2 separate regions of the Homo sapiens genome follow, and region 1 is linked to region 2. The links come from fine-mapping of genetic effects on gene expression. A gene starts in region 2. The other region holds a variant in brackets. All regions are shown on one strand. Distances are between the middles of the regions.

Region 1 (2,914 bases), 140 kb after region 2:
TTAACCTTTCTCAAATACAAATTTAATTCTGTTCATCCCTCAGGACCGTGTTTAACATGCTTTAGTGACTATTGCTTTAAAAGTAAAGTTCAAACACCTTAGCATTGTTGTAAGGTCCTTTGTAATCTAACCCCTATCTACCTATTTAGCCCTATGTCCATTCTGAACTATTTGCAGCATCGAGAACATATCATTTATCCCACAGCTGTGCTTTTAAATAAGTTTCCTCCTTCTGAAATACCCTGCTTTCCAATATCTGCTAGCCCTCAAGACTCAGCTCCAGGGTCACCTCCTCTGGTGATCTTTATCCTGAACTTTCCAAGCTGAACGAGTTCCTTCTTCGTACCCCCAAAGTACACTGGATGCCCCTTTCATTGTAGCAGTTACTCAATGGGCTGTGAATATTGGCTTAGTTGTCTATCTCCTTGACTAGCTGAGAGGTCTTTGATGGCAGGCACTCAGAAATATTTCTGAATGAATGAGTGAATGAATGAATGAATGAATGAAATCCACCCTCCCCCTGCATATGAAGCCTTTACAAACAAAAACTTACTTGAGTATGGCCATTTTTCCACTGAGTGTTATAACATATACAGACAGGACCTTTCCTCTATAGTGTTTTACTACGAGTTTCATTAAACTTTAGAAGGTCATTAACTTAGGATTTCAGAAACTTACAAGGACAAGGTTATGAACACAAAGTTCTTGTATTTATTTCCATGCATTGAAAAAATTATTTCATACTTTCATGTATTAAAAAATTATTTCAGCATCTCTATATAATTATTTTACATTTTGAAAATAACAGTTGCAAGACTACTAATTGATGTTGATGTCTCATGAGTTAAAAATGTTCCAGGATGGGCCGGGCGCGGTGGCTCATGCCTGTAATCCCAGCACTTTGGGAGGCCAAGGTGGGTGGATCATGAGGTCAGGAGATCGAGACCATCCTGACTAACACAGTGAAACCCCTTCTGTACTAAAAATACAAAAAAAAAAAATTAGCCAGGCATGGTGGCGGGTGCCTGTAGTCCCAGCTGCTCGGGAGGCTGAGGCAGGAGAATGGTGTGGAGGGAGGAGAATGGTGTGAACCCAGGAGGAGGAGCTTGCAGTGAGCCGAGATCGTGCCACTGCACTCCAGCCTGGGCGACACAGGGAGACTCCGTCTAAAAAAAAAAAAAAA[G/AG]TTCCAGGATGAATCTTTGTATTTGATATATTACTTCCTGATTCACTAACAGAATGGAACTACTCAATCTGACTTCTGTTTTCATGTTGTGAGAGAATAAGTTCATAACCGCTATACAAGTTTAAGCATTTAGGTTTGTTACTGTGCTGACAGTTTGTGTACAGAAATCACAAAATATTTACCAAATATTATAAAGAGGGCTACAGCATAGAAAACACTGCTACTTGTTATGAGGGAGAGAATGAATAAAGATGAATCAGATATGTAAACTGCAAAGTTCTTATCAACTATTAAGCTTCTTCTAGCTCCATCTTGTTCATCTTTGTAAAAGCACATATTCCTGTATTCACACCTGCATTCTATATTCAGTGACTATACTTAGCACAGAATTCTTGGGGAAAGATTCTAGCTAAGTAACAAGCAGCTGACCTGAAATACACAAACAGTGAGTGAATAGAGGGTGGCACTCTCTGTACACATTTGAAGACATTCAGAGTCAACGGGCTAAGCAATACAAAGAAGGAAGAAAAAAACAAACAGACAAAAAAAAACAAAACCAAGCATTTCATTCTCCTCTGCTCTATCCCCAAGAAAACCAAGAAATGGTATTACTTAGAGTCGGACGGGCTCTCTTGTTGCAGCCAGTTCTTTTTATCTGAGACTGGATCTATTAGGCCTGATACTTTCAGACTCTGAGCAATTTATTTTACTTTATCTCGTACATATTCAATGGTTGTTATATTTACCATCATGAAGAATGTTTTGGTTATGCTTTCCTGCCTGTTTATGCATGTAATTAACAATATAATGAATTCTGTGGTTCGGTTGCCAGACTTTGTTTCCAGAGGCTGAAATATACCACAGTGGTTCCAGAATCCATTCCAGGGTGGTTTTCCCTCCTTGTCCCCGCAACTCTGTGAGTATACAGCTGGGCAGACAAGCCTGACTCATAGTTCTTTTGAGGAAAGAGGCTCCAACAGGTTCTTTCCTGTCTAAGCTGCAGTCTCAGTGCAGGGGGTTTTGTTAGTGAAAACAAACTGCCTTTCCAGCCACAGGTGATTGGGGTCAGGACACAATGGGCCAAGCAGCCCTGTGTGGGCTGCGCATGAGAAGACCAGCCACGTCTCAGGAGGCCTGAGTGTGAGGGCCTGGGGCAAACTCTGCCCACTGAGGATTCTAAACCCGGTGGTGGCAGGTCAAACCATATTTCCCCACTTACAGGAGAAATGCACTGAGTGGGCCAGGCGCAGTGGCTCATGCCTGTAATCCCAGCACTTTGGGAGGCCGAGGCAGGTGGATCACCTGAGGTCAGGAGTTTAAGACCAGCCTGGCCCACATGATGAAACCCCGTCTCTACTAAAAATACAAAAATTAGCCAGGCGTGGTGGCGCACGCCTGTAATCCCAGCTACTCCGGAGGCTGAGGCAGGAGAATCACCTGAACCTGGAAGGCGGAGGTTGCAGGGAGCTGAGATCACGCTCACTGCAACAAGAGCGAAACTCCATCTCAAAAAAAACAAAATAATAATGATAAAAAAGAAATGCACTGAGTGAACAAAGATAAGGCAGCTCAGTGACCCGCAGCCTGGGGTCTGAGCAGTGCTGAGCACCTTTTCCGGTTCTCTGAGGGGCTGACTCAACCTGGCTGTTGAAGGGGTGACCTCCTGTGTGCACTCATGTCATGGAGTTCTTTGCCGCAACCTTGCCACAGCCACTGAAGGTACCACTGCTG
Region 2 (2,914 bases):
GTGCAGAGGAAAAACTGCTAGTTTCACAACCAAAAAACCAAGACTTAAATTTTGTTTGTAGCTTATTAGCTGTAGGGCTTTAAGTAAGTCGTTTAAATTGCCTCCAGCAAAAAATTCTCAACTGTAAATCATGAATAATAACTCTTCACTTCTAATATTTCATAAATTGTAAAGAGCTTTAGAAATAAAAATGGGAGTTATGATTACTGGTCCGTCAATTCCAATTTCCACACTAATAGCCACGAAGAAGCATGAGGACATCTAAAATAATTTTAAAATTGAGCCTTCCAGCCGGGCGCGGTGGCTCACGCCTGTAATCTCAGCACTTTGGGAGCCCGAGGTCGGGGGATCATGAGGTCAGGAGAGTGACAGCATCCTGGCTAACACGGTGAAACCCCATCTCTACTAAAAATACAAAAAATTAGCTGGGTGTGGTGGCACGCGCCTGTAGTCCCAGCTACTCGGGGGGCTGAGGCAGGAGAATCGCTTGAACCCAGGAGGTGGAGGTTGCAGGGAGCAGAGATTGCGCCACTGCACTCCAGCCTGGGTAACAGAGCGAGACTCAGTAAAAAAAAAAAAAAAAAAAAGCCTTCCATTTCTTTGCCAGAGCAGAGCAAGGGGGGACTGCTCTGATAAATCAGAAAGTGGGGTGAACAAGAAGCCCAAGCCTAGAAACCGTGCGTGCAGAGGATGAGGCACATGAGCGTGAGACCTGAGTTTTCGGGTGCAGATTTCCCGTCAATAATGTACACTCGCTAGCAGGTGATTGGACTGGTCACAGGTAATACATTTTGAAGTTATTCTTTAGGAGGCTTTTCATTCTTTTTAAGGCGCTGGGCAGCTGCGCGGCTTGCCAGAGGCTTAGCCCCAAGAAATGAGGTAGCTCGTGACATCGGACCCAGTCAACTTCACAGCGACCCTCCAAACGCGTTAACTCGACCAGTTCTTTCCGCGTGCGAAGCTGGGGTATCTTTAGATCCAGTCCGCTCATTTCGGCCAGGGAGGGGTTCCCACTTTCTGCACCGCTTCTACGGCGTCTGCAGTCCCCAAAACGAGAGGCCTCTCTCTCCGCCCTCTCCTCTCCTCCTATTTTCTTTCCTTTCTCTCGTCCCTTCAGCTTCGCCCCCGCTCTCTCTGGCCACCTCTCTCTCTCTCTCTCTTCCTCATTTCCAACGAACTCAGAAGGGAGAGGGACAGATATCCTCTTTTAAAAGCGACCAAGGGCCAGTAGTCGCGTTTTCCCGCCCCACCCCGGGAATTTGTAAGTTATTTACCTTCATCTCCACGCTCGAGCCGCTACGCGAACTATGAAGTACGCAGGCGCACCCGGTCTCCACCAAGCAGGCTACCGCGTTCCCGTCACCCAGGAGACCGCGCGAGCAGCGACCAATCAGCGAGTGCTAATTGAAAGGCGGTGCCTCGAGGGGCCGGGCCAAGCGCACCGCCCTCTGCGAGGGTGGGTGAGAGGCGGAGGGTGGAATCACATGACATCAGAGACGCTAACCCTGGGAAGTTGGGCGTCGCGAGGCCTTGCTGAGCCTCGGCTTCCTGGCTGGCTCTGATTGGATGAGATTCGTCCGGGAGAGACGGGCTCTGTGAGCCCTCAAAGGCGCGTGCGTAAATTTTGGACCGCGATGACTAAGATGTCAGTGCTGGCCAAAGGGGGCGCCGAGAAGCTGAAGGAAAGAAGACGCAGAATGTTAGATTAAAGGAGGCAGGATGGGCTAAATACTCCTATACAGTCCACGCAAAGAGGGGTTGGACGAGCTCGGGTATATCTTTTTTTCTTCCAGGTTTCTGGGGTAGAAGGGAGGAGGCATAAGAGGTACAATAGTTTATTTCAAGGTAGGGTTGTTGGTGCTTTTTTTTTTTCAGTTTCACCAAAATCTTTTTTTTTTTTCAATGTCAACAAAATGTGCTAGCTAACGTGGGCAGGAAAAATGAGCTCCAATAGTTTTCCTTTAGAGTTTGGATCTGGCAGCTTTTCCCCAAGTATAAAGCCCTGTTGTACAGTATTTGTGCTGCATTATTTATAGCATGAAAGTGCATCTTTTACCCAAGCGTCTGAAAGTGTTGAAACAGTCTACCTTTTGCTTTTCTTTTCGACATCAGGTAGGAATCTGATTGGCTTAGAGAAAGTTAATCAATGATTTGAAATAACTAATAATGAATGTTTGCAAATTCTTAAGTAGGGTGCTATGCCTTTGCACTGGGGTTTTCAGTTACGTTACGACAGGGGTCCGGATCCAGACCCCAAGAGAGGGTTCTTGGATCGCGCGCAAGAAAGAATTCAGGGCGAGTTCTCAGTGCTGAGAAAAGCAAGTTTATTAAAACACGTAAAGTGGTGAAAGGACAGCTACTCCATAGACAGAGTAGGACATTCCTGAAAGCAAGAGAAGGGACGCATCCACCCTAGGTACAATGCTTGTATATATGGGGAGATGTGCTCTGCTACAAGGGTTTGTGATCAAAGATTAATTTTCTTAATTATTTTGCAGGAATTGATATTATTATCTTTAAAGCAAAATTAGGAATGCCTTTGTTCTCCAGATATCCCGATATCTGGGTCTGTTTTAGTAAACATTATTAATTTATTCCCTTAATCGTAAACATCTAGAGGCGAGGAATGCCCAAATTCTGAGAATTCAGCCCAGCAAGTCTCAGCCTCATTTTCCTAGCCCTCACTCAAAATGGAATCGCTCTGGTTCAAACGCCTCTGACAGTTAGGTTAATTACTTAAATTTTTACTGAAAGATTCCTCTGCTGAAAGGGTAACCATTTAAAAATAGCCAGAGCAATCAGTTCTTAACAAGACCTGCCCTCAGGAGAAAGTATTTTTACCAAAGCCTAGTCTGCTGGGGTTTTATCAGAGCCTAAACTACCTGGGAGAAGGGAAATACTCAACTTCAGCCTC

The links. PIP is the estimated chance that this variant, and not a neighbour inherited with it, causes the effect.
Region 1: its variant is fine-mapped to the expression of WDR19 in whole blood (INTERVAL, PIP 0.95).

Annotation. Positions count from the first base shown.
Region 1 is chr4:39,036,910-39,039,823 of GRCh38, reverse strand. No RefSeq gene overlaps it. Among named protein-coding and RNA genes, the nearest start is that of TMEM156, 6.0 kb to the right of the region's middle. RefSeq lists an enhancer at 2,368-2,897. The variant G/AG (reference allele first, on the strand shown) is at 1,184.
Region 2 is chr4:39,180,924-39,183,837 of GRCh38, reverse strand. WDR19 (WD repeat domain 19) reads right to left here and starts at 1,309. Exons shown (of 37, transcript NM_025132.4): 1 at 1,275-1,309. The coding sequence starts at 1,280. RefSeq lists enhancers at 271-340, 1,041-1,190, 1,315-1,609, 1,461-1,640.